Regions from separate parts of the Homo sapiens genome. Here region 1 is linked to region 2. Evidence: fine-mapped expression QTL. A gene starts in region 2. The other region holds a variant in brackets. All regions are shown on one strand. Distances are between the middles of the regions.

Region 1 (17,207 bases), 300 kb before region 2:
CAAGCCTGATTCTTGCTTTGCCAGATGCTCCCTAGTAGGCTCTGCCAAGACAGGCACTCAAGGGAGAGCGCAGGGCTGGAGGAGGGAGAAAGGACCTGCTCCTTTGTATTTGTTGTCTGTTCCTGTGAGCAGCCTCCAGCAGCACTTCCTGCTTGCTTCCTTTTCCTCAGGAGATCACTTCCTGTTCTTGTCAGCATCACCTCACCCACACTTCGTCCCCCAGGCAGTGCAAGTGCCTGCCAGGAGCAGTAGCTGGGTCCAACTTGCAGCTCTCTCAACATTTGCCAACAAGCTTCATTGTGCCCTGACCCTCAGAGATGCCAGCACACCCCTTCAGGGGCCGTGGTCCCAGCCCCACAAGACCCCTCCTTCAGCTCAGAGACACCAGCACCAGCGGCTGATGTCCCCTCCTCCAGGGTGGCCTAGTTTCAGTGCTGTGGGGGCTTTTCCTCCATGTTTCTGCATATTAATAATTCCATGCTCCCCCAGCCCTAAGGGAGGCAGCTGCTTCCCAGTTATAACCTCCATGACAATTTGGAGTTCTTGTATTTTTTCCCCTTTTCAGTTAACTGTAATTATTTTAAATTCTCTTTAAGAAAACAACTGGTGTGACTTCTACCTCCTGCCTCACCCATGACTGATGTACTCAGTGTTTTTCTCTAATCCAGGCAGTGGCAGGGAGCCTGGAGTTAACAGAATGTTGAGACTCAGGTCCCAATTAGCTCTGTCACTTGGGTAAGTCAGAACCTCCTTCAGATGGTTTTACCTTTAGAGATCATTTTACATTAGATTTTGAATGGTGGCCATGGGCAGAGTGCAGCCTGTGTATGTGACAGCCTGTGTCCAGAGCCTAGGTGGACACTCTTATTATGCAACCTGAATTTCTTTCGGTGGAGCGCGTCTTCCCCATTTGCATCTATAATGTCTGTCTAGCCCCCGAATGGCCCCTGGATCCAGATTGTTTTCAAGGCTCCTTCTAGCTCTGACATTCTTTTGTTTCCAGCCAGGTGCAATGCTGTCCTGCTCATGACCTGTGCTTTTGCTGGGAGCTTGGAGAATGTCTCACAAGGCAGTATAAGTGATGTAATTGCTCCCAGTCACAGATAAATGCAAGAAATAACTGGTCCCCCGTCCCCTGTCTTGGTCACTCTGAGAAGTGCAGACTCCCGGGAGGTATAAAACAACATGCTAAAGTTGTGCTCTTTGGGGTCCTTAGGGGCTGTAGCCCATTCCTCATCTGCAGTGGTTATTGCCTTACCAGCAGATTTGCTGGAACAAATGGAGACTTTTCCCTTGACTCGAGCGTGCAACAAGAGGCTTGGCCACTGGTGGAAGAACGGTTGTAGTTTTCTGGGAAACTAATAGGGCTCCTGCCACCTCTAACCATCATCAGGATCCCTGCCTAGCTCATCAAGATTGCACCCCGTGTGTAAGGAAGTGGCATGTGGAGATGATGTGGCATCCTACTTGATGTCAAAAAGTAGCATCACGTGCAGCTGGAAAGCCCTACAGAGTCCAGCTCCTCCTTCCTCTTGCTTTTAACTTCAATAGATTTGTCCCTGGGCAAGAGCTACTCAGAGAGACTGCCTTTGAAGGATCTTCACTTCCACCAAAATAAACCCTTGCTTTAGTATACACTCTGAGAAAGAAGGCCTTTGAGGTGGAACAGCTGTGAGCATTGTCAGCATAAAGGAGAAGGTGTGTGGGCCTGGCTGTTTGGGAAACACAGAGGCTGCAGTGAAGCTAGGTACCCCTCTCCCTGCCTGAGCACGACCTGCCACCCGCATCCTGCTGCAACTTCTCCTCACCTGAGATACGTCCTCGCCCCTCAGGGCCTCTTGCTTGTGTGGGAAGCTGTCACTGGCTGCAACCACGGCCAGTGGCAATCTGTGCCCCATTGGTGAAGATGCCATTGGGAGGGACTAGGAGGACCTTTTCTGCTTGCACCAAACTGAGAAGTTAGTTCACTAAATGTTCTAGTGAATTAACACATGAAGCACAATTGTCCTTTTGACTAACAGCACTGAGTTCATACAAACTGGACCATGCTGAAATTTTTTGGAGGCCCTAGGTTAGGAGTATTGTTACTGAAATGCCAGGGTTTTGGTCTAGGTCCTGTTGCTTACTGCACAGAAAGCCAATCACTGAGATGAGTACTGCCAGGGAAGAAGGCTTTAATTGAATGCTTCAGCAGAGGAAATGGGAGATCAGTCTCAAATCCATTTTCCTGATTGACTAAAATTAGGGATTTATATAGCAGGGAAGAAATGTAGCCATGAAACAGAAATTAGGGAGAGGCAAGGAAGAGGGGTTGTTCAACAGGAAGCAGGTGATCACTTGGGTAGTCATGCTGGGTGAGGGGTCTACGTCTCATGGTCCAGATGTGGTGCTCTGGTGAAGTCCAGCTTCTTGATGCCATCTGGGAGGTCTGATGGTTGGTTTCCTGAGAAAGGAACTCAGATAAGACAAATGTAACTTTCTCAAGTTTTAACTCTGGGAGGATCATTTTCTGTTTATTCAAAGAAATCATAGACATCAGTTCTATGGGACCACTGGGCTGGTTTCAGTATCAGCCTATGAGCCATGTGCTCCATAGAAACTGACCTGCTTCACTGAACCACACACACTTAGTGTGGCTGAGCTTTGTGTTCTATTCCAGCAAAGGGGTTCTCTGTAAACGCAAGGCATGGATTGAGCAACCCATTTCTGATGGCCCCACACAGACACATCATATTAACATTAATTTATAGGCCGTCCTGTTGAATCTAAAAACAATCTTTTCATTTATGGACGGTACCGAGATGATTATGTTGAGGCCCGGAAGGTACACAGATTATCTGATGCCCAGGCATCCTGGGCTTGAGGACACAATGCTTCTGTGCAGTTGCTGGTCTAAGTCATAAACTGAGCCCCACAGCTAGCACGTAGCTTTGTGACAGCTGTGTCTGCATGGGGCTTTTGTCTTCTATTCACAAAGCAAGGATTAGGTAGGAGCCCAAAGACAGGGCGGGAACTTTACTTGGGCCTGCTGGTGCTGCAGTACGTAAGTTGGACACACCGCAGCTGGGCATCTGAGGGTCTGAGGAGATGGTCCTTCTCCATGGCAAGAGCCTCTGAAATCTCAGAGCTCCAAACGCACCAAAGGTCAAAGAAAAAGAGCAGAACAGCCAGCCCCTGCATGGCGCAGGACAGCACTCTCCGCTGCGATCTTGTCCTTCCGTTGTTAATATTTAATTCAGAAGCTTGTTTCTTTCTCCCTATTATGTGGGACTTTGAAGGCTGAGTCTCAGCTGTCATATGCCCTTATCTCTCCTCCCCCAGAGATATCCTGAAACAGTGGTAGCTAATGGGAAAACATGATTCCCTTTACAAAATTCTGGTCAGCAACCTTTCAGGCGCCTTTAATCTGGCCTGTACCTGCCTCTCCAATCCCACGCTGCCCTGTTGTTCTCTTCATATCATAGCCAGGATGGGTGATTTCTGCCATTCAAGGTCTTTTCTCAATCTGGGGTGATCTCTCTGGCACTCAATTCTCATCTCTTAGGTCTCAGCCCAAACTTTGCTTGCCAGGGAGACTCTGAGCCTCCCAGACTAGAGCATTTCCCTAGCACATGCTCCCCAGCATCCTTGACTTTTCCATCATGACATGTATCACAATTTGCAGTCATACAGTTGTGCAATTATTGGTCCATGTCTTGAGTGGAATGGGAGCTCCCAGAGGGAAGACCTGTGGCCATGATGCCCACGCTGCCTACCGCTGCGTGTCCGGCACTGGGCCCTGGGCCACGATATAGAAGACATTCGTGAATGTGTGTTCATTGACTGAATGGTGGATTGCGGGTCCCTGATGAGGAGCCAACTCTTCTCTAACAAGGAGTAAGAAGGACACAGCCAGCTTGCTCTGCACTCTCTGTGCCATGCTCCTTCTCAACTAGGTGGCCAGTGGAGCCACAAGAATGGCCAGAGTTCCTTCCCCTCTCCCACTGCAGGAGGAAGAGCTGGGGAGGCGGCCATGACATGAATCAACACAGGTGGCTTCAAGTAGGGCAAGTGTCCTCCATTCCTTATGAACTTTCTCAGGCCACCTTCAAATACCCTTGTCATCTCACTGTCTTTGTCCCTCCCAACTCCCAGCCCCCAGCCCCCAAGGGTTACAGAGTGAGAGAGGGGCCATGGGGATGGCAGGCAGGGAAGAATGGCACACGGCGTATGCTCACGAGATGAGGACCCAAGCTGGGGAGCAGGCTTGAGGTGTGCGGTAGAAGATCCTGGCTGGCACCGGTGTCTTCTGGGCAGAGCTGTACACACGGGCAAGTCTTCCGATGCCCAACTCGTCCAAGTTCTTCGGATAAGAAGTCTGAAAGAATACTCCAGTTCCCAAACCCTGAAGGGAATGCTGCACTCCTTGACCAGAAATCCTTTACTAAAAACAAACTACACATAGGTGCGCTGAGAGACTGTTGCTCTAGAAGGCACTGAAAACCCTTCATAAATGTAAACACGGCCTTTCCCATTCACTTGTAAGGGATAAGTAGCCAGTATTTTAATCACTCTGCAGCTGAAGGCTTGCACCCACTGTGGGTCAACTCTTCGTATTACAGTCATTGAAATCAAACTTCAAACACCACACCAAAAAGTCATTTGTGATGGCAGGCCACCCCACTCCTTTCTCATGGCTTCTAGCTTGTTTTTAGGAGAAAAGCTAACAGAGTTTAGAAATCAACCAAAGTGCAATTTTTTTTAAACCCTTAATTACCACAAACTGGTATTTCTTATTGTTTTCTGTGATTCTTTTCTCTGGAGATTGTCCCGGCAGCTTTGACAGAGCAGTTGCAGCCCACCCTCCTTCCTTCCTTCTGCAAGAGTGGGAAGGAACGCTGGAGTCACAGGAATAGCAAACCCCGAGGCTGTTCTCCAGTGAGATGCTCTCAGGCACAACTGTAAGTGCTACTGGAAAGACACAAACACTTCTGCAAATGTTAATTGTGCATAAGAATACTGGACACTTTGAGGAAAAGAATTCTGCTTTCAAGCAGTGATGTTTAATTATATTTTTCACATTTTCCCCACAGGATTTAATTTCTGGAGGAAGGCTTCCCTCTTTCTGGTGATATGTCTTGATGTTACCAAACCATTTCCTATATTTAATCTTGTGGGGCTTTCTGCATTTTCATTTATGCATTTCCCATTTTGTACCCAGTGCACTTCCCCATCTTTGATGCTTAGCGAAAGATAGCTTGTGCATCTTTTTGCAAACATATCCATTTGTCTCTCTCTGAATGGGGAAGAATCTGCCTTTTCGGCAATGGAGAAGGGGAAAACCAAGTCAATGAACTTCAAATTCGCAGTGTTTGGAGAGGTAATCCTTAGGAAAAAACCTCATTATTTCATTTTCAAATACAAGAGTATATTTCAAATGAGGACAGTCAAAGAAAGGATGTTTTGCATTTAGTCAATTTTGCAAGAGTCACACAGGAGACAGCTTTCTAGAAAGGCATGGGGTAACCTTGGGAGATGTGCCACAGCCTAGTGCCCAGAGTTCCCGGATGGTAAGTGCACGCATGTGCTATTTGCAGGTAACAAGGATGAACTCACATCCTTCAACCCCTTCAGTTCAGTCAACTGCCTTTTTGCTCCTTCTACCATTTTAAAGTTTAACAGGGTTCTACTGGATCCCAAATTATCATTCTCAAGGTAACACCCTGGTCAACATTAACATCACCCCTCTAACTCAAAGGTACCACTACGGGATCAATTTGAAACAGGATGCTTCAGAAATTTGTAATAATGGGCAACTTTTGTCAATTTGGAAATAATTCCCTATGTGCAAAGTTCAAAATTGTGTACCACAGAATCATTTCCTATCTAATGAACTGTCATCAGTAAAAGCAGTCTCAACAGAAAAAAAACCAAAAACCAAAAAACAAACAAACAAAAAAAAAACCAAGAAAGTCAATAGCCAGGTCTTCTTGCATGTGAAAAAGGAGGAATACACAAGGTTTAATTTGCGAGAATGAGTCTCTGTAGATTAATGGTCTTTAATTAGTTTTCCCAAAACCTAAATCACCTGTCATGATAAGCTAAGTAAAACTAAAGCAGTTAATTTTGCCATCTCACTGTCCTTGTCCCTTCCAGCCCCTAGTTAATTTTGCCATGGATTTATTTTGCCTAACTTTTCTACTCCCCTTCTTTTATTTAACATGAAAAAAGAAAGACCTTTCTGATAAAGTCGGATCTGAATCACTCCTATAGGTGTGTGTCAGATTATGGAAGGAGAAGGGTCTCCTGCGGCAGAGACGTTCAACTGTCAACTGATGACACCTCAAGGCAACATTTTAATCAAGGCAACATTTTAGGCATTTATAAACGTCAGTGTACTTGAAAACCTAATGCTACTGTTTGAAGCATGTCAGGCCTGAAGCGCTATGCACATTCTCTTTGAGGGGACAAGGCAAGCCTGTGGCAGGCTCAGAGTATCAGTAAGGAGCCACATCCCCTTAGCACGTGGCTCTGCATCCCTGACTGCGCACCTGAGGAAATGGGGTCTTGTGGTTTTGTGCTGCAGGAGATGTGTCCAGAAAAAAAAAAATCTTGTCTTTAAAAGTTGAATACAGAACACCAACGTGACCCTGCACCACAGCTGCTCCCCAAGGGTGCCTCCACCTCTGAGTCTATGGCATGTTCTAGCCGTGAAAGCTTTTGGCTGCTTCTGCTCAGACTTGGACACATATGCTGTCTACAGCTCTGAGTAGATCAGGGACCAAATTGGGCAGAACTAGCTCTTTCTGCATAGAATTGTAAATAGAATCGGCCCTGGGGTGGGATACCCTGTTTGTGTATCTTCAAATCATCCCCCATTATGAGCCACAGAATCTTCTAGATGTCAGTCATTGGGGAAGCCAGCATGACTTGGTTACTCCCTATTCATATGCCAAAATTAATCACGAGGTTAAATGTGAATCTTTCTAATTCAGCAATAGCAAGGTCTGAGTGGGAACTGGGCGGAAGGTTACAATACCAGTGATATCAACAAATTTGGTGCACATATTTATCATGCAAGCAAGACCTAGGAGTGAATGTCAAAACTACTTAAATAAAAAATTGTTTAAGTTCCTTAGATTTGTCCAACCGACTGCAAAAGTATTTATGTTCATGACACTTCAATTTGAATTGCCTAAAGTGGTCAGCTTGGCGTTACTTTGTTATTTGATGACTTGGAAGTAATAAAATATCCATTTGCTAATTTTCTTTCACTCTTTTAAATTAGTCCAAATCAATGGAGTTTCCATTTGTTATCCTAATTCTGTCATCTGTCTTATCTTCACTCCAGAAAGGAATTCTGTTGTTTAGATGTGACTTTTCATTTGCTTTTCAACTTTCCCTCATGTTTTATTCAGAATCAGCTGCCTTTAAATCAGATTGGAAGTATGTACTTCACGTACACATATGAGGGACTGTAATGAGTCCGAATGACATGGTTTATTCCTCTGCTGTAACCATGAGCTGGAATGAAACTCAAGAGACCATCCAGTACCACAGCTTCATTTTCAGATGGACAGACTGAGGCCTAGAGAGGCAAAACGACTCCCATGTTATGACCGGCCTTGGCCAGAGCTTGCTAGTAGTACTCAAACTCCAAACTCAACTATAATTACTTAAGGTGAGGATTAGAATAGAAGGATCTTCTGATTTCAGCACTTCTTACAAACACATGTCTATTTATTCTTGCCAAACCTTCTGTGTGATTTTAACAAAATGCTTACCAGGAGCCTAGTCTCCAATACCGGCCTCAAAGGCCAAGAGATAGATTATCTGGTCAGTTTGAAGAGAAACCACTTAGTTTACTCAGCAAATGAGGGACCATCTTTAGGGCTTAAGACTCCTCTTAAATAAATGACCTATGGTTAATTATTATCTACCCAGCTCTTATCCCTTAATCTCTAGTTTGAAATTCTCTGGTAGTAATTGCTCCTAAACCTATTCCTGTAATCACAACTGCAGACAAAAGCAGGTCCTTCTGCAGCAAAAATGTCCTCATTTTTTTTCACACTATACTATGATATTTAATTAGTGCAATACTAGTTTTCCTCCTTATAGGGATAATTGCACGTTTATGCATATTTTTCAGGTTGGAGAACTTTGTTGTGAAGGCATTCTCTAGAAGATGGAATGCAAACATGTTCTGTTAACCATTCATTTACGACTTCAATCATTACTATCACTGCATCTTCTGCAACACAAATGCTGAGTTATACATTATGCATATTTCCAAGAACATTAGATCAATGTTTAAACAGACTAGTATGAATGATCATGTTACAGACTTAAAATAAGCTGAGCTACAGGGTAGATGCCATAACTTCATTTAATATTGATAGCAGCTCAATTTAAATTTTGAAAAAGCAAATACATTTAATAAA[A/T]TTGGTGTGAATTATTACATATTTTGATGGAACTACTGTACAGAATGTATACATATATAAATCTATAGATAGAATTATATACATTTGAGTATATACCACATACATATTTTTTCCACTCACATTTTTCTCTTTAGTAAAACAAAGCAGTTTTACTGTACACAGAAGTGCAATGCTACATTAAGTCCTGAGTAATTTAAGGTATCATTAATAAACTGCTATAAATTCTAGTTTTCCAGCCAAAGATCCAATAGATTCTGTAACAAAAAATGTGAATAATACTTAAAAATATGCATTTAGCTTTGCGTTCATTTTGTGCTTAGCAGAAAAAGCTCAAGAATGCACAGTAGCCATTTAGATTTGGGAGAATGTTCTTGAATATTCAAGGTTAAATAAATATCCTAATTGTAGGGATTTATAGAAGTTTTAAGTAATGTTGTCTACATCCAATTTGTCAAGCATGGAAGACTACAGTCATGATTGGATCAAAAAATCCCTTTTGCAGAATATGAAATTCTGTGTAAACATCAGTGTTTGGGTTTTATATAAAAGTTCTGATTCAAATGAGGGAAAAAAAGAAAAAAATACAATGAAATAATTTAAAATGCTTTTCTTGGAATATAGCCAGCCACATGGAAGAAATATAAAAAATACGAGTATATTTTGGTGAAAGAGGAAACCAGATGAAAGTCATTTAAGGGTGGTCTGGTAAGCCACCCACTTTGGGAGGTCCCAGGCTGGCTGGGCTCAGGGAACCCACGATGGCCCAACCACATCTATCTTGCCACAGGGGACGAACTTTGCTGCGCAGTGAGAAGGAAGCACTGTGGGAAAAGGCCACGTTCAACCGCAATGGAACGGTAACGGCTGCCTGTCAGGGCCACATCAGCAGGCAGAGCATCCCATCCCCAAACTCAGGCACTAGGTATGGAAACGTGAGGTGGCCCGGGCCCGCTGCTGCATGTCTGTCTTCAGCAGGAGGAGGCAGACCCGGATCCTCGCATGGGGGAGCTGCCCTGCATCGGAGCCCGCTTCGACGAGAAGGCACTGCTGTGGTGGTTCCTCCATCACCCCTGGCTCTACCCCGTCCCGTGGCTGCTGTAGTCAAAGACTCCTTTCTTGAAGAATGGTGAAAACTCACAAATGGTATGTTTCGAGAGAGTCAGTCCCACTTTGTTGATGTGGAGGGGAGATGTTGCGGACTGGAGCATCACGCTGAAAAAGTCCCTGAGGTATTTCTGTGGAAGAGACAAGAGTTAAGAACATGGTCAATTGGGAGGTCAAGGCGGGTGGGATCGCTTGAGCTCAGGAGTTTGAGACCAGTCCAGGCAACATGGAGAAACCTCATCTCTACAAAAAATAAAGAAATTAGCTGGACAGGGTGGTGCACTGAGGCAGGAGGATCACTTGAGCCCAGGAGGTAGAGGCTGCAGTGAGCTGTGATGGTGCCACTGCACTCCTGCCTGGGTGATAAAGCAAGACCCTGTCTCAATCAATCAATCAATCAATCAATCAATCAATCAATCAGAATACGGTCAAGGTACTGTTGGATGGTGTCAAGAAGAGAAAAAATTTCCAGAAACAACTTCCCACCCACCTGGAAAGTGCTATCATTGTCATTAAAACCAGCACGTGAGGAATGCCCTCCACTGTCCCACCTATCATCAGACCAACCAGAGAAGACGGAGTCACAAAATACATATGCACAGAAGAAATATCTTTGGCTCAGCACTGATTCTGGGCAGCACTGTCTCAGATCTACAGCAGACAATGCCTAGGAAAATGTCAAGGGTGCCAGGCACAGGGGATCTGCCTCTCAGCCACAGTGTCACTAGTTAATCTCTTATTTAAAAAAGTCATTTCCTCCCCGCTCCCAGTTACTCATTAAATAGAAAGATGATTAAAAAAAAAAAACAAAAAAAAAAGGCCGGCCATCTGTACAAGGTTAAATGTGCTGCTTACTGGTATTTTAAAATTGCACAGTCAGTATCTGTTTTGAATCCTTCTTATAAAATAAAGGGAAAGCAATACTGAGGACAAGAGGGTCAGTTCCAAGTACTGATATTTACAGATCTTTTTGCATGTCCTATAATCATCAACAAAAAGGAATCCTTACTACAATTACTTGCTCCAGACCCCTGCTGCATGTTTGTTGCAACATTATCTGCCGTTTTTGGCACTGAGAAAGCAAAGCATATGTGAGACTAGGCTCTGGGAACTGGGGATAAAATCAGATGTGGGAGCTGGAGGGATGTGTTCAAGGAAAAGAGGGCACACAAGAATAGTTAATATATTTTAGGCCAGGCAAATCTCATCTGTAACAGAAAATGGGCTGGAGGGAAGGGGTTAGACCCAAACCTTTATTATTGTCTCAGTGTGCTTAAAAAACCCAAACAACCCTGGCACAGTCTTAGGAATTACACATAATAATTCTGGACTCTGAGTAACAACAAAAAATTTGTGAAAGCAACATGGCCTAAGCCTGGAGCAGTAGTTCCCAACAAGAGGCAGTTCTGCCCCATAGAGTGTTCAGCAGTGTTTGGTGGCAGTTTTGAGTGTCACATAGGGGTGCACAGGCAGTGCACCTGGTGGATGCTGGCCAGGGATGCCAAAGCACAGGACAAAGAATTATCTGGCCCAAATGTCGACGATGCCACAGTTGAGAAGAGAAAGTAGAATTTAGCTACCTCTATGAATTGCCAACCTGAAATTTCCTTCTGAAAGAAGACATTCTACTCAACGAGAATTTGTTAATTCTCCTTCAAAATATTAATGAGGACTACTAACAACAACACTTGTAAAATAACTTAGTTTCTAAAAATCTTCTAACATCCAATGTTTTACACTTAATGGAAGTAAAACTGGTGCATGATAAATTGTACTTTTTTTTTTTTTTTTGAGACGGAGTCTTGCTCTGTCTCCCAGGCTGCAGTGCAGTGGCGCGATCTCAGCTCACCACAACCTCTGTCTCCTGGGTTCAAGCAATTCTCCTGCCTCAGCCTCCTGAGTAGCTGGGACTACAGGCATGTGCCACCATGCCCAGCTAATTTTTTTGTATTTTTAGTAGAGACGGGGTTTCACCATGTTGGCCAGGCTGGTCTCAAATGCCTGACCTCAAATGATCCACCCCCCTTGGCCTCCCAAAGTATTGGGATTACAGGTGTGAGCCACTGCGCCCGGCCAGATAAACTGTACATTCTTTAAATGTATAACTTCATGAGTGCTGACCCATGTGAAACCACCATTAAATCAAGATAAATATTTGCATCCCCTTCAAAAGTTTCCTAAGGCACCTAACTTTATGTTATCCTTACACTTGGCCTGGAATCACATCTTCTTCTGGTATTACCCATTTCCTGGTAAGGAAGCTATTGCCAGGAGAGGTGAGCAAGGCTAGTAATCTAGAGAGAAGACTTGAAAGCAAGTATTCTCAACTCAAGATGTTTTTTCTTGTTCCATATCCCTAACTTACTGGTCTCATGGTACCCTCTCAAGAAACGATCCTGAAATTGAAATTAGGTATTGGTAAGAAGTTATGAAAATCAACTGCTGAAAAGTGAAGATCTTAATCTTAGTAATTATTTTTATCAGAGGGGCAAAGAGAGACCTGACTTCCACTTTTCTGCGGGAAGGGACCCTGAGAATATCAACTTTAAAGGGACTTGAATTGCATCAAACAGGGTCACCAGTATATATCGTAGACTACACTCAACCAGCCAATGCTCGCGGTGCAATGCATGTGCACAACTGATTGTTCTGGGAAGATCAAGGGTGAGATGATTTGGAAAACGGGAGATGCAGAGCTTGCTGACTTGTGCATGGAGCCACTGCTCTTTCACAGTTTAATGCATGATAGAGCAAGGCTCGCTGCACAGGCCTCATCTCAGGTAGCTCCTGTGGGCTCCGGCTTCAGGTCTCCCACAGGCTGCATTAACAGGCAGGCTGATGTTTACAGCAAAGCTGACTTCAAGATGAACTCTGACAGACTGGAAGGCAATTTAAATCTGGGAGCAGATGTTATATCAGCATTTGTCATAATTAGTACACAAAGTAGGGTCCCTATAAAGGGCCAATAAAGCCTAAAGGGTATAATAAGAAGAGAAGTAAAAGTTAAAAATATAAATGAAAGGAAAAGAGGAAGTATTTGAGACACCTCCCTTCAAGAGCACCACCATAAGAAGAGAACAATACAACTGTCAGGTAATGTCTTTTTCTTTAAATAAACTCATTAGTGTTGTTTGACAAAAACTCCAGATAGAATGATCTGATTTGACTAATTCTAAACATTACAGAAGAGTTTTCTCTTCGCAAAACAAATTTCTGCTTAAGGAGAATTAGGCAGCTTTCGCCTCCTTTACATAGCCTGCTTCCTTGGCGCAAAGAAATGATTTGATTAGGAAGCGTTCTTTGCAGCGACCTCAAAGTGCTCTAAAGTCTGTTAAGATGAGGCATGACCTTTGTTGGCCATGTCCAGAGCCACATGCTTCAAATGGGCTGAACAAATTCTGGCAAATGAAAAAAAAACAAGGGACTGGGGCTACAGCTGGGGACACAAGACAGAACTAGAATTCTAGAAAGTTCTTAAGGTCACAGACAGTGTCTCATTCTTCTCTGAAGCCCCCTATCATCCCTGGAACACTGCCAAGCTTAGGAAACGTGCTGAGAGGAAACCTTGCTGATTTTAATTAGTTATCTTTTTTTGAATTAAAGTATATGCACAGAAAACCACACACAAGTGTACAGTTGAATACAGTTTCACAAAGTTAATATATCTATGCCATCAGCATCTAGATATGAATTATACAACACTTCCAGCCCCCAGGCAGCCCTCCTCGTACTCCCTCCTCCGGTACAAACCTTCCCTCAAGGGCAATCGCTATTCTGATTTCTAGCACCAGAGATTCGAATTGCCAGTTTTTGAACTTCATATGAGCGGAATCATTTGGGATATACTCTTTTGTGTCTGGCTTCCATGGCTTAATGCCGTGTCTGTGAGATGCGGCCATGCTGTGCGCATAGCTGTGGTCTGTTGAGTACCAGCACTGTGCAGTACTTCACATCTGAACAAAACCACCGATTGGCTTTAACACAGGGATAAGCGTTGGTCACCGCTTTGGTCCTTTAGTCTGAACTCTTCTTCACTAATGAAATCTACTTCCCAATATTACTGGTGTCTGATGAGTCAAGTTTATCACTATCCTTCCAATAAAGAAGTTTCCTGTAGAGATTTACACTCAAATCTAAGCTTAGCCAATGTACTTGAACTCTGCTATTTTATGTACATATTATATATATATATATATATAAAATATTTAAAATATACATACTTACCTAACAACACACATTCATATTAGTAATTTTTATTGCCTGTGCTCACAATGTTTTCCACAGCATCTGTGGCTGAAGGGAGAAAATTAAAATCCCCCTGTCAAAGCTATCCCTTGTTGTTGACCCCAAAGTCACCGTAGCCCTCCCAGGATGTGAAAAATCAGTCCAGGTGTCAAGCTGCATCTCCCCAGGTCAGCACGCTTTATAAAAGAGCATTGCGAAAACTGAAGGATATTAGGAGTTTAAGTGACTTATCCAGGTCAGAAGGGCAAAGTGGGAAAAAGATTTGTGAAATCCAATATCCAATCTGTTTCTGACTTTCACAGGACATTTTCTCCATTATAAAAAGAAATAAAAGCAGGCGTATTTAAATCTCTAGCACGTCAGGGACCACAGAAGGCCTGCAGCTCTTGTTCACCTGGTGGACAGTGACACACCTGAGTCTTTGCTTTGTCAAATGTCCTGTGTCAGGGCCACTGAGAACAGCAAAAGCACCTCCTAGGGTTGCACAACATTATGGCCCTGACTTGGATAGTTGGAGGAGGAAAGTCAGATTAAACCAAATCTTCTTTCAATACGATTGCAAACCAGAAATAAGATGGGATGGCGGAGCCAAAGGGGGCCTAGGAGAGGGTCTGTCTGACAGTGAGTGATCATGGGAAAGAGAAGAGGCCGAGAGAGACAGGGGGCCACAGAGAGACAGAGGGGGCTGTCTAGGGGAGGACAAGAGAAACAGGGCTGGGATGGAGGGGAAGACAAAAGAGGTGGAAATGAAAAGGAAACCAAACCAGCACAACAACGTTGGAGACGGGTACCCATGATTTATTTGTTTACCAAGCTGGCAAAAAGAATTTAAGAATAATAAGAAATATATCAGATATCTATCTAGGTTATTTACTTTTTGTGACTTGGACCAATACTGATGTAGGTGTTTTCTTATCAATACTTTCAGAAAATCAAATTTAGATGGCTAATCTTTACGGTATATTTCAGTGCTGACATAGAGTACCTCGATTTCATGAATTGCCTTTCTTCTATAGGTTTTGGGCATATTTTGTTGCTCAGGGGCAGTGAGCAGGGGTTACAGGTAACTGGGAGACATGGACCCCCATGGGTCTGTTCCAAAGAAAGTGTGACCCTGGCACATGATGTTTAAAATCTCCCCAAAACAAACAAACACAAAATCCTGTACAGGACTATGAGCTTTTAAAGTGGAGGCCAGAAGACACGAGCAGAAGAAGGGGGGATGTGGTGATATGAGAGACACCCTAGACTCAGGCTCCTGCCTGCTACCCACAGCACCCGCCATCCCCTGCTTCTCAGTCAGGTCCCCTCTGCTGAGCCACACGGTCTCTCACCGGGCAAGTCTGTCTACACCGGGCATCTTAGCTGCTTGGGTCAGATGCACTGCCTTTCCTAGGCCTGATGGTGCTTTCGTGGGGACCAGCAGGCACTGGTTCTTCAGAGTTAAAAGTTCTTTACAAACACGGGGAAGGTCCTGTTTCTCTGCAAGGCTCACGCTCTTCTACAGGGAGCCAAGGCAGCTCAGGGAATGCTTCGGTATCTCCCTTACAGTGCCTTGGTGGGCACTGGCCATTCTCTGACTGCCCTGTACCCATTTCCCTTCCCAAACAGCAGCCCAATCCCCTTCTGAAGAAACACCTTTCCCCTCTCTGGGAATTGGTTAACTGGTTGACTTAAGGCATAGGACAGATAAGCTTTTCCCATGATATTCTGGGTGGACACCTTACAGCCAAAGAGCTAATCAAGCTACTAGCGCTTGGAGTCTCCTGGAACCAAGGGTCCTTTGGGGGACACCTCTTCCAGATTGTGTAGCTGCTGTTATGGAGCATTTTCAAGAGTTTGAGAAATTCAGGAAAGCTGGGCAGTTTCAGGAGAGCCTTTGGTCTCTGTCCATTCCCAAGGCTAGGAGCGAATGATTCCATCTGTTTACTGTGGTGACAGTCATTTTCTACTGTTTACCATCAAGTTAACTAACAATAATCTCACAGCGCTGGCAGGGGGCAGACAAGGGTCAGGAATCAGAAGAAACCTTCCTTGTAGAACACAATCAAGCTCCTCCAGGGCTAGTCTATGCTAAGATGGAGGTATCTGCCTATCACGCTCTTCTCTTAGGAAAAGGTCGATCCTAGGAGGCTCTGGAGAATCACATTTCAGATAGGTCAGAGTATCCCGGTGGTCCATCCACAGCTAGGCCTGAAGCTGGAAGGCTCCTGCCCCAGACCCTGATCTACACATAGCCCAATCTTTAAATTTCCAATGCCATTTCAAAAGACAACTACTAAACACTATCAATCTTTTGAACCAAAACACAGGCTAATATGGTCTACTGGCTGTGTTAATAAGTTGTGAAAGGCAAAATGAACTCCCTACAGCAATACAGAGTAATTCAGCAAGAATTTAGTCCATTATATTAGAGCTTTAGCATGGCACCTCAATTAGTTTATGCATCAGGAAAAAAAATTGAAAATATAATTTGCTGCTACATGCTATTCCATTTAGACATTCTTGAAGGTCATTATATTACTATGATTCATGTGTGACCTACAATACAATTTCAGTCTGAGCTCTGCCTGAAAGGAAACATGCTTTGGAGTTACTGGAAAAATGTGGGCAAAATCTGGCCTTTAGGCAGCTTCTTTTGGGTTTTTCTTTTGAACTGTAAATCTTTTGGGTGAAATGCTGGTTTGCTCACAGGAACTAACCATGGATTTCATAGTCCATCCTGGCAAAAACCTGTGAAGTCAACAAGGAGCTGCATGGTGTGGCTTCCCCCCTCTCTTACACCCATTCCCTTTTAGGTCTGTGACCTTGAAAGAAAGGACAATTTTAGACCAGGGGATGGAGGGAAGGAGGGGTGGTGTCCAAGTTCAGCTAACAGTCTGAGCAAGAGAGCAAGGCCAAGGCCAGCCTGTGCAAGGATCTGGGTGGGAAACAGCAGGATGTGAAGCAGAATGCAGAGGGCCTTGAATATGGATTCAGCCTGCAGGTACTTCGTACAAAGTTTCCGGTTCATGAGCTTATGTGAGCCCCTAAGACACCCTTAGGAGAGGGACAAGAATGGATGTCCTTTGTTTACAGAGGAAGTAACTGAGATTCCAAGGGGCAGTGACTTGGCTAAGGTCAACAGGTCATAAGAGGCTGACAAAGTGACCAGCTCTTCAAATGTAGGAGAAAGCCATTATTGCCTAATTTAATCCCGAAGGTTCAAGCCCGTAAGCCTGAAATGTAACATGGCCTTTCTTTGGGGCTGTCCATACTATGCACATGCAGCCTCCCAGAATTTTCCCTGAATTTCAGTCAACTGCTGCGCGCGCACGTGTGTGTGTGTGTGTGTGTGTGTGTGCGCAGAAAATGCAAGCATGAGAATTTGGGCCTTCAGATGCCTTTGAAAGACCTAAGCCTCCTTATCTGCTGGCTCTCTGCCTTCTATTTTAATTA
Region 2 (16,316 bases):
ATTTTATGTTAACTTAAATAGTCACATAGGTGGCCGACAGTTATACTGGCCAGCATAGGGATCTAGAGATCAAAAACCCAAATGCCCAGGCTTCACAAAGAAAAGTCCTCACAACACCCTGTCTACCTGCCTTGCAACTAATTCTTACAAAATCTTCAATTTGTCTAAAATCATTAGTGAAATAAACATGTTCCTACCTTCCAACCACCCCCTGCCCACCTCTCAACTAAGTCTTCTGTATAATGAAAGGACTTTAGGAAGTTAGAGTAGGGGAGACTTGGATTCAAATCCAGCATCATAGTATCTAGCTATGTGACCTTGGGCGGTCTTATTTCTTATTTCTGAATAAGAGACCTCCTTATTACAGTCTCTGAGCCCTTGTTCCTCATCTGTAGAATGGGCTGACAATGCCAACTTCCAAAGAGTATCAGCCAAGCACCTAACAGAAATTATCTATATGGTCGCTGGCAATATCCCTTCAGGGCTCAACTCAAGTTCCACCCTCTTATCTAAAGAGATGGCAGAAGCACTGGAGATCTCTTCCTCTAGCCTCTAGAATCCCCTAGAGGTTCCATCTCAACCGTACACAGATTCTATTGTTATTTTTGTGTGTTGTGTATTCTCTGATCGGCATTTCCCTGAGGCCATGGGCTTCTGTCATCTGTAAGCCCAGAGGCAACGTCACTACATAAAGGGCTCTGAAGGGAACCGAAGCAGCTGGCTCAACCCAGCATTATTATCTGAGGGGTCTCAGTCTCCCCTGGCTTTTATAGGTCAGTCAATTGGTGAGAGGAGGAAATGCAATTGCCAAGGTAAAGAAATAAGCATAGGGCTGGCAGCTCACGCCTGTAATACCAGCACTTGGGGAGGCTGAGGCGGGCGGATCATGAGGTCGGGAGATCAAGACCATCCTGGCTAACACAGTGAAACCCTGTCTCTACTAAAAATACAAACAAAATTAGCCGGGCGTGGTGGCGGGCGCCTGTAGTCCCAGCTACTCGGGAGGCTGAGGCAGGAGAATGGCATGAACCCGGGAGGCGGAGCTTGCAGTGAACCGAGATCGCGCCACTGCACTCCAGCCTGGGCAACAGAGCGAGACTTCGTCTCAAAAAAAAGAAATAAGTGTAGTACCTGGTACCTGGCAGTGCCTTGACAGATACTTCCCGTCCTTAATACAAGACATGTCTGTCCTCATCATCACAGACCTAAGAGGCTAACCATGAACTACTTTCCCTTTGACCTATCTTCTTTTTAAAAGAGGAAGACGTCAGTACACCCTAAAGATATCAAATCCAGGCAAAATGCCACTGGTGGTTTTTTTTCTTCTTTTTCTCTCCTGAACTTGATAGACTTGATACTAGATTCTACCTGAGAGGCTAATCAGGAAGAAAGGCTAGGAACAGTCAGAAAAGAGAAAGAATGGGGTGGATTTGCCCTATCAGATAAGCAAGCACATTATACAACATAGCTATAAAGCTGGCACATCACCAGCACTCAGTAAATATTTTTTGGCATTTTTTAAATACTTGTTTTTGAATAAAGTTACAATTATTAAACTGTAAAAATAATAGTAATGACAACAAGCACTCTTCAGGGAGCCCCTGCTGAATGCCAGGCTCTGTGTGGAGAGCTTTATCCACATGCGTTATCTCACTTGAACCCACAACAGTGTTTTTCACACCCAACTGCAGCTCTTTCGTGGATCACACCTGTAATCCCAGCATTCTGGGAGGCCAAGGTGGGAGGATCACTTGAGCCCAGGAGTTTGAGACCAGCCTGGGCGACACAGGGAGACCCCGTCTCTACAAATAATTTTAAAAATTAGCCAAGTGTGGTGGTGTGCACCAATAGTCCCAGCTACTCAGGAGCCTGAGGCAGGGAGATCACCTGAGCCCACCAGGAGGTTGAGGCTTCAGTGAGCCACGACTCTGCGCCACTGCACTCTAGCCTAGACAACAGGGTAAGACCCTGTCTCAAAAAAAAAAAAAAAAAAAAAAAAAAAAAAAAAGGCATAGCTGTGACTGTCTTAAGAAACTGACTTTGACTTTGAGCAAGTTAACTATGTGCTATGATCTGAATGTTTGTCTCCCCCTAAAATTCAAATATTGAAACCTAACCCCTCACTGAGATAGTATTAAGAGGTAGGGCCTTTGGGAGGTGATTAGGTCATGAGGTCCTTGTGAATGGGATTAGTACCCTTATAAAACAGGCCCAAGGGAGTCTGTTTGCTCCTGCCACGTGAGTACACAGCAAGAACCTACCATGTATGAGGACCTGGCTCTCAGAAGACAGCCAGACAGCCTATCTGCTGGCACCTTGATCTTGGATATCCCAAGCTTCAGAACTACGAGAAGTAAATGCTTGTTGTTTATAAGCCACCCAGTTTACAGTATTTTGTTAGAGCAGTCCAAACACACTAAGAAACTCTGTCTCCCAATCTGTAAAATGGCATAACAATAATGTCTCTACCTGCCAAGATGGCTGCAAAGATTAAACTGGATTTTGTACCTGGAGCTAGGACCAGAGAGTCTGGCACAGAGTCAAGTCTCAATAAAGGTGGCTACCATTTTGCCTACGTAACAGAATCACTTCCGCATTTGAAATGAGTATTACTGCCACATAATTGAAAGCCATAAGGCAATAAAAATAAACTCATCACATCTTGGCCTGAATCAAGCACTCATATTCCTTACAAGGCTGACTGATTACTGCAAAGGCCCCTAGTTTAGAAACTCAGTCAAACTCAATACTCCACCACCAGCAGTCCTTACTTTCCAATAACTCTGGGACTTGTTTTTCTGTAGGTTGCTTTCCCTTTGCCTGAGGCTCCACTACTCTAAAAATAAACATTAAAAACATTAACAACTTCCTTCAATCCTCCTCACAACCAACTGAAACTTCTCCAGTGCCAATGAATTTTGTAGGTGACTTTTTAAAATTACCTAAATAAGCACTGCTGGGTTAATAATTAATTCTAAGTATTAATTATAAAACTACGCATGAGGAAAGTAAAAACAAACAGTAAAAAAAAAGCCTTTCATCTTTGCCTAATGGATTCATCATCAGTCCTCCTCTTTAGAGGTATCAGTGTTAGGTTTCTTACAAACCATTACATATAGATGAATCTGTGTGTGTGTGTGTGTGTGTGTGTACATTTGTTAGCACACACAAACACACAACTTTACTCCACTGTGGATATCTTGCTTTTCTCAATCCTCTACCTTGGAACTCTTTTAAGATCAACACCCTCTTTTTAAGACTTGCATAATAATCCACCAAATGATTTACGCTATAACTTAACAAATTTCCCAATTTTGTATATTAAGGTCACTTATGATTTTTTGTTATCAATGATGATGCAAAAATCATCATCTTTACACATATATCTTTGTAGGCAGCAATATAATCCATATAATAAAAATTAGAAATTAGAAAAAGTAGAAATGAAATGGTCAAATCAAAAAGTTTATAGATTTCCAATTTTTTAAGGGAAGCATTTTCTGCTTAAGTATACAGATTTCTAATCTTGACAGCTACTGTCAAATTTCCCAATATGAAAGTTTCAGATGTTTTGATCCCTTATGCTTCCGTGATCAATGCAGAGGCGTCTGTTTCATCACTCCTGTACCAGCAATTGGTGCTCAGTTAATATTTATCAATCTCACTGGTAAAAAAATGGCATTTTATCACTATTATAGTATGCATGTCTTTCCTTATAAATTAGGTCAAGTATATTCAGTTGCCAATTTATATATCTCTTTCTACTCACTGCCAACTTCTGAATCATTGACTCTCCTTAAAAGTACTGTTGGGAAGGTTATCAACTAGCCTTGTCTTCAAGACCAAGGACACCATCTTATTCTCATCATCCTGGCAATATTTGACACTAACCCCCACCACCTCCTTCAGGATGCTCTTCTCCCTTTCCTGCCATGACCATTTGCTGTGCTGGTTCTCCTTTACGGACTGCAAGCCAATCTTCTCCCTGAAATCCTAAAGAGGGGCATATCCCAATGTCCAATCCCTGGCTCCCTTTTCTTCTCACGTAACATCCTTAAATTGTGGTTTATGTGCAAAAGATTTCCAAATGTCGATCCTCAAATCACCTGAGACCTAAACCCACATTTTCAGCTTTCTGCTGAACATCTCTAGCAGAGGGATGGATGTCCTTCCCACACTTCAGATAATGAACAAGGTCAACATGCGTGAAACACTTGCTCTGTGCTTGTACTTGACACTTAATACATCTCATGTAACTCTCCACATCCAAGAGAGAACATACCAACTTCATTGTCCACCTTCCTCAAACCTGTTCACCTCCTTCAGCATCAAACCTCAGTTAATGACTCTACACTCGCATTCTTCCCCCTTCTTCCCATCCAGTGAGCTGCCAAATCCTGCCAATTCTGCCAGTGAGTGGTCTTCCTGTAACTATCCTGCCTTCCAATTTCATCTCTGGCTCAAACTGCTAATCACCTGCCTCTTACCTCAATCTTGACACCACCAGAGTTCTCTACTGAGAATATAAATAACATCACGCGAATCTGCCTCCCCAAAGCCCATGGCCTCTGGACTTATTTCCTGCCATCCCTCCATGTACCTGGGCTCCAGGCCTACACTGGCAAGGCACTGAACTCACAGTTCCTGTCCCAGCAGGCCCAATACTTCACAAGATTCATGCCAGTACATAATCCCTCTCTCACCATGGCTCACCAGGTCTCATTCCCCTTGTATCCCAGACAGCACCCTGAGGAATGCTATGTGTTTGGTAGGTGCTTAACAAATACTTTTTTTTTTTTTTTTGAGAGGGAGTCTCGCTCTGTCACTGATGCTGGAGTGCAGAGGCACGGTGTCGGCTCACTGCCAGCTCTGCCTCCTGGGTTCACACCATTCTCCTGCCTCAACCTCACGAGTAGCTGGGACTACAGGCGTCCACCACCACGCCCGGCTAATTTTTTGTAGTTTTAGTAGAGAAGGGGTTTCACCGTGTTAGCCAGGATGGTCTCCATCTCTTGACCTTGTGATCCGCCCGCCTCGGCCTCCCAAAGTGGCTCCCAGGCATGAGCCACCGCGCCCAGCCTAACAAATACTTTCTAAAGTTACACAATACAATTTTCTAGCATGTGTTCACCTTTTTCCAAAAAAGAAAAAGAACTTCTATACACATGAAAATCCATAATAAAGAAAAATCGTTCTAAAGTTTATCTTCTATGATGGAATGTACACAGAAACAAAAATATTCCCTTAGAGCAAAAAAGTCAAACTCTTACTCTAAACAGCTTTAGAAATAACTCAAAAGTCACAAAAAGCAGATTCTGAAAACACTGGGTTTTAATGATTACAAACCAAAATAATGATTCCCTACTTGCCAAGAGAAGAAACAGATTTAGATGAGTCAAATAAGGTTCTGGAAATCTTTTGATTTTATGGCCTTCGGCTGCCCCAATCAGGCATCAGAACTACCAAACATTAACCTCCACAAGTTGATATGACAAAAGCAAAAAGGCCCTATGGTAAGTCAAATATCCACCAACTTGGTAGAGAAGTCAATAAAATCAAATGGCTCTGTGTGAACCTTGCCTGTCACCTTGGAGGACACATCCCATTTCTACCTCATTCTTTGAAGTCAAACCAATTTAAAAAGTAACTTTTCCAAAGAAACTTTCTAAACGGATTAAAAAGAGGTCATTGAAAAGGGAGCACAGGCTATTTTTCAGTGAATGAAGAGAAGGATTCTGAAAAAGCATTACTTCGTAGAAATATATAACAAGATTAAATTTTGTGTGTAACACTCTTCCTCTCTCTTAATATCAGAGTATTTCAAACACGTGTAAAGCGTCCCTGACTTTTTTCTAGGAGTCAGGACTTTGTCAAAGTTTTCCCATCCACTCTCTAACATGAAGTTAGGAACTGCTAAGTTATCGATTAGACATTCAGGGAATCAAAATCATCTCTAACTGAAAGATTAAAAAGTAGCATGGTTAATTGTTAAGAGAACTTCTGAGTTGGTAGAAATGAGGGGTTCACCTGACAGTTCGTGGTGCCCCCCCTCAGCACTCTCACCTTCCCCCCAACTATTTTACATCTTCATGGTAACGTTCCCTTGATGCTTTTTTAAAGGGGGAACAAGAACATCTCAAGTTAATACGATGGAGAGAGTTAATAGAATCTTCTCCTTTACCACCAGGGTCCTCTCCAGGGCAATGTGAACGGGACAGCAGTGCACGAAGTCCTCCAGGCCCCCAGAGGCCACAGCCTGGGCCCGGTGGGCCAGGGACCAGCCGGTGACACTTTTAAGTCCAGGCTGGCTTTGGGGGAGCTGGAAACAGGCTTCCTCTGGGTGGGGGCGCGACGAGGGGGCGGGGCGCGGGCGGCCCCACTCACCTGCGATTCATGGGCCGGACCCTCACGGCCACCTTGACCGATGCCATCGCTCATCCCGAACCAGCCCGCGCGGGGTCCCACTAGCCCAGAACTCCGCGGTCGCCGGCGACGCTGGCTACTCAGATCGCGGCTCCCGCCCACTTCCCTCTCGCCCCCGCCCCTCTGCTCCCGGCCGGACCTGGAGTTCCGCGGCAGCCCCACCTGCCAGGCCACTGAGCATGCCCAGAACGGCTCCGGCCCGCGTGATCCATGCGCCACGGTTTGGCGGCGGCCGGGCGGTGCAGAGGGGCGGGGCCGCGGGGCCTGGAAGCAGCCTCCGGGATCTGCAAGTCTGGAAAGGCCACGTTGTGGACCTTGGCGCAGAGGTTATGGGGGCGACCCGGAGCGGATGGTTTCAGGAAAACTAGAACCCACCCTCATGGCCTGAACAACTGGAGAGAAGAGGATCGCAGCAATTTAAAGCCAGCGGCAAGGATCACAGTCCTGGGGTCAGGTGACCAAAGCCAGTTTTTCAGCCCTTAACAAGAACCTGGCTTCACCCAGCCAAACATGAGTTAACGTATCCATTTTACACACGAACAAACTGAGGCGCAGAGATGATCACAGCTTGTTGGTGGCAAACTCCGCTAGGGCCTTCTCTGCTACCCTAAGGAGGTCCGACCGTATGTTTTGGACCCCTTAACTCGGGATACCGATAAACGAAAATTAATAGGGTGTTGGATGTTTTAAATGTGTGCGGGAATGTCATTATATTGGCTAGAATCAAACCTTATTTAGACTTGTTTTGCACTTTTGTACACTTTAGTAATTTTTAGTTTTAATCATAAGGGAGTTAAAGGCGAACACAACTGGTATTTTTTTTTTTTTTTTTTTTTTTTTGAGACAGGGTCTCGCTCGGTCACCCAGGCTGGAGTGTAATGCTGCGATCTCGGCTCACTGCAACGTCCGCCTCCCGGGTTCAAGAGATTCTCCTGCCTCAGCCTCCCGAATAGCTGGGCGTGCCACCACGCCCGGCTGATTTTTGTATTTTTAGTAGAGACGGGGTTTCACCATGTTGGCCAGGTTGGTCTCGAACTCCTGACCTCAAATGATCCGCCCGCCTTGGCCTCCCAGAATGCTGGGATTACAGGCGTGAGCCACCGCGCCAGGCCGACAACTGGTATCTTAAGGCTTAGGGCCTCTGGTAGAAGTGAGCTCCACCTCCCTTCCTGTGTAGAAGGTAAATGCATTCATTCATTCAGTGAATCGAGCATGCATGAAATCGTTTGCGCACACCCAGAAGCCCACCTGCGAGCCACAGGAGCAGCCATTCCAGGAAGCCAAGCTATAATGGGAGACGCAAGGAATGGAGGCGGAACTCCTGTTTTTAAGTCCTAGCTCCAACACTAGCCTTGTCAGCCTGTAATTCTGAATTACTGGGCGCCTCTGAGGCTTCTTGTCTCATCTGCAAATCAGGAACAACGGCATAGAGTGGTGAATGCATCAAGTGGGATGATGTCTGCAAGTACGCAACCCGCTTACACAAAGAATTATCTTTCCATAACCTTCCCTGGACCCCTAGGGCCAGCAGGGAATCATAGCCTCCCTTTGTTTCTAGAGCCCGGAAATCACTGGGTTTTCCCTCTGTCTGGAGCAGAGCTGGGTGCGAATTTGACCAACGGGTGGCAGGAACAGCCGGAGCAGGATATTAAGGAGCGGGCGAGCTTGCCAAGCATGCGCAGTAGCGGCGGGTTGGTTTGAGAAGCCGCCAGGGAGCCAGCGCGGCGACCTAGCTGGCTGGGGCAGGGGAGGGGCCCGCCTTATATGGGAGCTGCGTGGGGACAAACTGTTCGGGCCCAACGCGCGGGTCTGAGAGACAGCCACGCCTGCTCCGGGTCACTCCGGCCACCTGGGGGGCGTCGGCGCGCAGACTCTGGCCAGTTCAGTATTCAAACTCTTCAGGAGTGCTAACTTACTCATGACAGCGATTTTCTGTATCGGGGTTTCATTGGTCGGTGGTTTAGAAGGTTTTGCTCATTCATTCGTTAATGTAATTCCAACAACCTACACGTGTTTATAAGCCCCCTTTCCATCCACGACTTTGCTGTCTGACACAAAACGGACCATCGCAGCCCGGCAGACGCTTTAGACAACAAACAGCATGCCTGGAGCTTTTCAATAGGAAGCAGTAAGGCTTGATCATCACAGACGATACGGAACGGGCACTTTCTTAGCAGAAAATATTTCTATTGGGGCGTGAAGGAAGTTTCTGAAAGGGAAGATTATTATAAGATAAGGGGTTTGCTCATCTCAGACTTTAGTGTGCCTGCTTTAAAGTGTTTTGCAAACTTGAATGTTTAAAGGAATCACCTGGCGGTCTTGTGAAACTGCAGCTTCTAATGGGCAAGTCAGAGGGGAAGCCTGAGACATGGCATTTCCAGCACGTTCGGGGAGTGAAGATGCTGTCGGCTGCCACCCTCCCTGCAAGGAGCCAGGGGATAGATGACCTCTACGCAAACTGTGAGAGCTTAAAATAACTGATAGTGAAAAACAGTTACAGAAGCTCTAGGCCGGGCACGGTGGCTAATGCCTGTAATCCCAGCACTTTGGGAGGCCGAGGAGGATGGATTGCCAGAACTCAGGAGTTTGAGACCAGCCTGGGCAACACGGTAAAACCCTGTCTCTACGACAAAATAAAACAAACAAAAATAAAAGCCACGCATGGTGGCGTGTGCTTGTAGTCCCAGCTACTCAGGAGGCTCAGGTGGGACAATCGCTTGAGCATGGAAGGAGGAGGTTGCAGTGAGCCAAGATCGCACCACTGTACTCCAACCTGAGTGACAGAGTGAGACCCAATCTCAAAAAAAAAAAAAAGCAGTAAATCCAGGGCCCAAAAGGTCAGTAAGAATTCAGGGATCCAAATCAGTTATGTACTGATGCATAAAAATAATGGCCAAAAATGTGGAGGCTTAAAACAAAAACCGGTTATTATTTCTCTCAATTCTTTGGGTTGCTGGTGTCACCCGGGCTTTGTGGCTGGGCTCTAGGCTCACCTGGGGTGAGGAAAAGTTGGTGCATTTTGCTTTTTCATCCTCAAAAAGTTTAGACCAGGTTCCAGATTTCTTGCGGCGGCGAGACACCTCGCCAGGAGAGCACCGCACTATGCACAAGCCTTTGCTGGACTTCCATTGACCAAAGGCAGTCACATGGTCACGCCCAGGCAATGTGGGAGGGCCCCGCAAAGGAGGGGTGGGTACTCAAGAGAGCCACTAAATAACAAACCTACCTTAAGATCACATTTATTTCTAACATTTTAATAGTTATAGTTCAGTATAATTGATTTTCCTGGTAATCCCATTTATTTTATTTTATGCATTTTAAAATGTTATTCTGAAAATGTTACTCTCACCAAACAACCAAAAGGGTCCACGGCATAAAAAAGGTTTAAGAATCTATGATTTTAAAATTCAATTGGATGGATAAAAGACATTTTTATTTTTATTGTGTATATATACATATATATGTGTGTATATATATATATATATATATATATATATATATTTTTTTTTTTTTTTTTTTTTTTTTTTTTTTTTGAGACAGAGTTTTGCTCTTGTTGCCCAGGCTGGAGTGCAGTGGCGCGATCTCGGCTCACTGCAACCTCCACCTTCCGGTTTCAAGCGATTCTCCTGCCTCAGCCTCCTGAGTAGCTGGGATTACAGGTGCCCACCACCAAGCCCGGCTAATTTTTGTATTTTTAGTAGAGATGGGGGGTTTCACCATGTTGGACAGGCTGATCTCGAACTCCTGACCTCGTGATCCACCCACCTCTGCCTCCCAAGGTGCTGGGATTACAGGCGTGAGCCACCAAGCCCGGCCGACATTTTTATTTTCTAAGAAGGTTGAATTGTGATGGGAAGGAGAAGAGAAAATTCTGAAATCTGGGTTAAAACCCAAATGGTCTCAAGATGCATATGTGCATGGCGGGACTGTGGGGTGGGGGATGTGGTTGTTTAGTTTGTTTTGATGTAGTTTATTTTGGTCTTCATTTATTATTGAAATTTTTTTCTGATGTTTAGCAATCTCTTTTTTAAAACGTTTTTTCAAATCTTTTTTTAATCTCTATTTTGAAAACTTTTTTAATGGACGAAAACTTTTGAGTGACTTAAGCTCTCTGAGTCTTAGCTTCTTCATTTCCACGCAAAATAGCACTGTAATAGAATGTTCACTCCACCGCAAAATATTTGAATCATCAGGGAATACTGTTATCAGAAGAAAAATACTGTATTTCTCATGAGCTGTGCTTTTTCTTCATCCTAGCCTCTGAGGAATAAAATTGATTTACTTTCTTACAAACATGACTTTTAAAAAATCTTGATGAACATCAGACTGGCACGCTTAAATTGGGACGAAGGATATAACTGACACCTCATAAACCCATCGATTTCCCTATGTGCTAGAAGCACTCACCAGAAGCATTATATCACATGATACACTTAGTGTCTCCTACAGGAGTGCCTTACACCAAGGGACTTAAGTTGAATTTAAGAGCTATGTGGTGAGCCAATGAGAAAAACAAGTGTTTTCCTGGTTTTCAAATAAATGTATAATAAATAGTAGTACCAGAGACAGGAATCACAGATACCAAGTCCAAACCCAGCACCAATTTTTTTTTTTTTTTTTTTTTTTTTGATACAGAGTCTTGTTCTGTCCCCCACGCTGGAGTCCAGTGGCGCTATTTTGGCTCACTGCAACCTCCACCTCCCGGGTTCAAGTGATTCTCCTGCCTCAGCCTCCCAAGCTGCTGAGATTACAGGTGCCTGCCACCACACCTGGCTAATTTTTGTATTTTTAATAGAGACAGGATTTCACCATGTTGGCCAGGCTGGTCTCAAACTCCTGGCCTGAAGTGATTCACCTGCTTTGGCCTCCCAAAGTGCTGGGGTTACAGGTGTGAGCCACTGCGTCTGGCCTACGATTTTCATTTTCTAAGTCACAAAATTTAAAGTATATTTAGAATCTTCTAAAATACTAAACATTAAAAGCAGGAATAATTTGAAAAAGTATACTTTGGGGCTAGAGAGAAAATCTGAGCTCCAAAATCACAGTAAAGATAATTGCAAAAATCGTACTAAGTAATTTTAGTAAAGCTTTAGGCAGGTAACCATGAATGCCTGCTTTCTTTTATAGCAAAAGTGAATAAAGAAATCACATTAGATTCAATTTAATAGACGCTATCACCCTAAATCATAGTCATTTTATATACTAAGATAAAAATGATTGTTTTCAATTGCATATAACTGTATGCAACCATATATATAAAACTATGTGGTCATAAATAGTTCAGAACTGATAGACTGTAGAGTCTGTGGCCTCATTTTAACTTCGAAAGAGTGAGAAACCATGTTTATTTAAAGTGATTGGGAAAAGTTTCATGGATGAATTAGTTTTGGAGATCGGTCTTGCAGGAGGGACAGATTTGAACCCAGAAAATGGTGAGGAGGTGACTTCTAAAGCAGAGGAAATTCCTTGAACAAATGTTTAGTGTTGGAAAAGCGAGTCCTGCTTCTGGAATAGTGAGAAAGCCTCTTTACCTGAAGCACAGTGTAAAGTTTAAAAATAGTTGTAAATGCTTCTCTTCCCTGGACTCATACCTTGCGATGTCATTTTGCAGCTCCCCTCAATGGGAAGTAGAATCTCTTTCTCCACCTCTTCAATATGGCTGGCCCTGGAACTTCCCTTGGCACACAGAATGCAGCAGAATTGGCTTCATGTTGTTTCTAAGCCTTGGCCTCAGAGGCCTTGCATGCTTCCTAACCCTGGCTCTAGGAAACTTGCTGCTGTCATGTAAGCAAGCCCAGGCTAACCTACTGAATGTTGGTGTGTCCCAGTCAAATCCAGCACTGCAACCAATAGCCAGGCAGCCACCAGACATGTGAGTGGGGCCACCTCACACCAGCCAACCTCCACCAAGTCATCAGATGTATGAGTGAGAACAGCCCAGAACAACTGAGCCCGTCCAGACCAGCGGAACAACCAAGCTGACCAGTAGACTTAGGAGCAGTAAACAGATGATTGTTATGGAAGCCATTCTGTTTAGGGTGTGTGTGTTATTGCTTGCATCCAAATACATCCTATCTCATCTAATGAGAAAAGGCCCTGCTCAAGGGCTTTTGCAGCTGTAGTTGGGCGCCGGAAGTGTCTTTGTGGTCATTTCTTACTCCATACACGGGGAGATCAAGGCTCAGACCAGGTAGTGTGACTGTGGACAACACTTTCCTTACCCCTCTGTGACACTTAAATCAATGAAGCAGATTCACAGAAGCATGCATGCTCACTGAACACAGTATTTGCATTCCTACCTCCAAACCTTTGCTCCACCCATGCATCCAGTAAGAATGCCTACTTCCCTCCTCTCCTCCATCGAGTTCTTTCTTTGAGTTCTACCTTCCCTAGTCTTCCTCCACTGCACCAACCCACGGTGATCCCTGTCTCTTCCAAATGCTTTGTAACATGGTAGGCATCACTCACTTGTGACTCATTGGACCATTTTAAAACTTGGTTTTCTGTGTCTCTTTTCCAACAAAATTACAAATTCTTTGAGGGTAAAAGTCAGGCCTAATAGTTCTCTGTACTCCTAGTAGTGCCAGTGTGGTAAAAATTTAACTTGACAATTAGCAAAACCAATAAATTCCTTACACTATTCTGTTCCTGTAGGTAATCAGTATATGAATATGGATTCCTATGTGATGATTTTCTGGTCTATTTTGTCCCTTTTTTTTTTTTGTTACTTTAACCAGGCCATAACATAAAGGTTATGCCATTTGTTACTGTCAAGCTTAATTAAGCCCATTATAATTCGTTAACCCCTGTGCTTGCTTTGTAATTAACATTGATTAACACAAACAAGTACAAAATAGGCCATCAGCACTTTCCAGAAGTGCTGATTACAATTACATTGGTAATTCAATACGGTATAGAAGATGGCAGGATAGTAACTTGCACTCTGTTTACATAAGGAGACAAATGCTACCATGCAAAACTAAGCCAAGAAACAAAATACTTTCCTCATCCAACTCACTGATTAAACCCTTACCCTGTTAACTCACCCTATGACTGTGTAAACCTCCAGTAAGATTATTGAAGGCACAGCTCCAAGTAACTTGCTTAATTGCATTCCTGGGACAAAAGAGGGAAGCGCTTCAAAGCTGACAGACAGATGGTAGAGTGTCCAGTCACAGCAAAGCAGGCCCCGAGGCTCATGACAGACAACTCCAGGGCTGAGATCTCATTTGTAGCTCTGGGATAAAGTCCAGGGTTTGATGGCAGCAGGCTGAAGTGTAAAGATGCTCAACAATGCGCACCCCAGAGACACTGAATCTGAAAAAGCTTAGAGTGAATAAAAATCTGGAAATGAACTCTGTCTGTCTATTCACCATTCCCCCCATAAAAAAATTCCTATATTCCGGATGGTGTTCAAGTTCCCTTTCCACAGGACCTCAGCAGTCAGGGAGGTGCTCCTGCAATCTATGTGAAGGAGATTTCACCATGCCCACATGGGAATACAGTAGATTGCCAGTAGGGATGCCACACCTTTGCATTTCCTCGTATTTCCAGGAACAAAGCTGGGGTGCCTAGGAGCTGCAGCAGTTTTTCTTCTGTGTAAAATAAGCAAGCAGGACTCTGCCCCACTGCACTCCAGGGAAGGATTAAGAGAATTGATATCATCCAAATCAATTGGCCCTGTGCAGATGACTTGATAATGAGGCCATTGAGTTTTTATGGTTCACTATTATTGCTACAAAAATTATGCTGCAGAAATCATTCAAATGCTCAAAAAGGAGCATTAGTACGAAACTGGGTGTTCCAAAGTTGTTGCTGAGAGGTGTGTAATGTTCCTGAAGATCCCCAAGGCACTAAGACTTCTCTGTACATGAATGACTCATAGAGAAGAAATACACCAGATGAAAATATATGGAGAAGTTTGCCGAATGTCATATAACTTGTAAGTATTAGAGCCGAGGTCTGAACCCTGATATCTGTGTCCTTATAGCTCAGGCCTTTTCCTTCAGCCCCTCCTTCTCAGCAGAGATGTGTTGGAGAAATCACTAGAAATGGAAGAGCAGCTGTCAGAAGCAGAATTGAATGAAGTGATAGGGGAAAAACATACATGTTGATACAAATGGTCAGCCTTAAGCAAGACTGTGACATTGATGCAGCACAGGGAAGCCTCAAAATTGGGACTTAGCCCAGGAGGGTTCTTGGCTTCACCCAGGAAAGAATTCAAGGGTGAGCTGGTGGTGTTAGAATGCAACTATTACTGAAGTGGCAGTGTACGGCAGTAGCAGAGGCACTGCTTGCGGAGCAGGGATACCCCAGAGGCACTGTGCCCAGAGTAGCAGCTCAGAGGCAGTTCTGCACTCATATTTATATCCACTTTTAATTATATGCAAATTAAGGGGTGGTTTATGCAGAAATGTCTAGGAAAGTGTGGTAACTTCTGGGTTGTTGGGTTGTTGCCATGGAAAGGGGTGATAACTTCTGGATGTTGCCATGGCACACTGATGGGTGTGCCTTATGGAAAGCTGGTCCTCAATTTGGTCCAGTGTCCCAGCCCCACACTGGAGTTGAGTCCTGCCTTCTACCTCAACTTTGGTGACATTTGTCTTTGGTGGCCATAGCCTTTCTTTCTGCCATTATCAAGCACCATACCCAAGGTCTCATATCCATCCCAACAGGGTTGTAGACAGTCATTTGATCCTTTTCCTCAGCATCCTATTTTCTCTCCCTCATACACACACACACACACACACACACACACACACTCTCTCTCTCTCTCTCTCTCTCTCTCTCTCTCTCTCTGTTGTTGCTAGTATAAGGTACAACCAGACTTTTTTTATCATTTATTTTTTAAAATAAGATGTGAAATACATTCAATGGTGCATATAAAGTGTACAAATATTAAATGTTCAACTGGATGAATTATTTCATATGTATATACCCATGTAACCACCACAGATTCAGAATGTTTCTACCTTCCTAGAAAGCTCCCTGGAAGTACAGGCTTTTTATTTTAAAGTCAGGTGTATTGGGATATCAGTTTCATATAGTTATATTCAGAGTTCTTAGTGTACAGTTTTATGAGTTTTAACAAATACATACATTTGTGTAGCTACCAATATAGTCAAAATATAGAACAGTATCATCACCCCAGAAATGTCCCTGCACCCCTTTGTAGTAAATCTCTCCTAGCCCCTGCCAACCACTAATCTGCTTTCTGTTCCTACAGTTTGTCTTTTATAGGATGTCATATAAATGGAATCATATATTTTGTGTCTGACTTCTTTCACTTAGTATAATACATTTGAGATTCATCCATGTTTCAATAGTTCCTTTTATTACTGAGTAGTATTTAATTTACCGCGGTCTGTATGTCCATTCACAAGTTAAAGGACATTTGGGTGTTTCCAACTTTTGACAATTATGAAAAAAGCCACTACAAACATTCACATATAGGGTTTTGTTTGAACCTAAGTTTTCATTTCTTCTGGGCAAAAACCAAGGAAATCAAATTTCTTGGTCTATTCCAAGTACATGTTTAACTCAGAAAAAAAAAAAAAAGCAAAAACATTCCCTGGAGTGGGTATACCATTTTGCATTTACACCAGCAATGTACAAGAATCTTCCTTCTCCATATTCTCACCAGCAGTTGGGATTGCCAATTTTTTAAAGTCATTTTACCAGGTGTGCACAGATTTTTGAAGCTGCATAACATGTTCATAGATTTTATTGCCATCTTCAGAGAAGACTTAAGATCAGTCTTAAACATCTATTTATATAAGAGCAACTTGGCTCATACTAATTAGGCAGTTCATATTAACATTCCTAACTAGAGTTACTTTTACTTATTCAGTCAAATTGATTAGTTGTTTATATCTTAAGCAGTATCTATGCCA

What was found.
Region 1: its variant is fine-mapped to the expression of KIF16B in lung (TOPMed, PIP 0.92).

The regions. Positions count from the first base shown.
Region 1 is chr20:16,263,757-16,280,963 of GRCh38, forward strand. It overlaps KIF16B (kinesin family member 16B), which reads right to left. Exons shown (of 26, transcript NM_024704.5): 26 at 8,348-9,655. The coding sequence ends at 9,497. Among named protein-coding and RNA genes, the nearest start is that of KIF16B, 300 kb to the right of the region's middle. The variant A/T (reference allele first, on the strand shown) is at 8,421.
Region 2 is chr20:16,566,845-16,583,160 of GRCh38, forward strand. KIF16B (kinesin family member 16B) reads right to left here and starts at 6,604. Exons shown (of 26, transcript NM_024704.5): 1 at 6,385-6,604. The coding sequence starts at 6,431. LOC124904875 (a long non-coding RNA gene) reads left to right here and starts at 8,459. Exons shown (of 2, transcript XR_007067539.1): 1 at 8,459-8,883; 2 at 12,035-12,515. RefSeq lists enhancers at 6,361-6,882, 14,532-14,701 and silencers at 6,495-6,724, 6,511-6,640.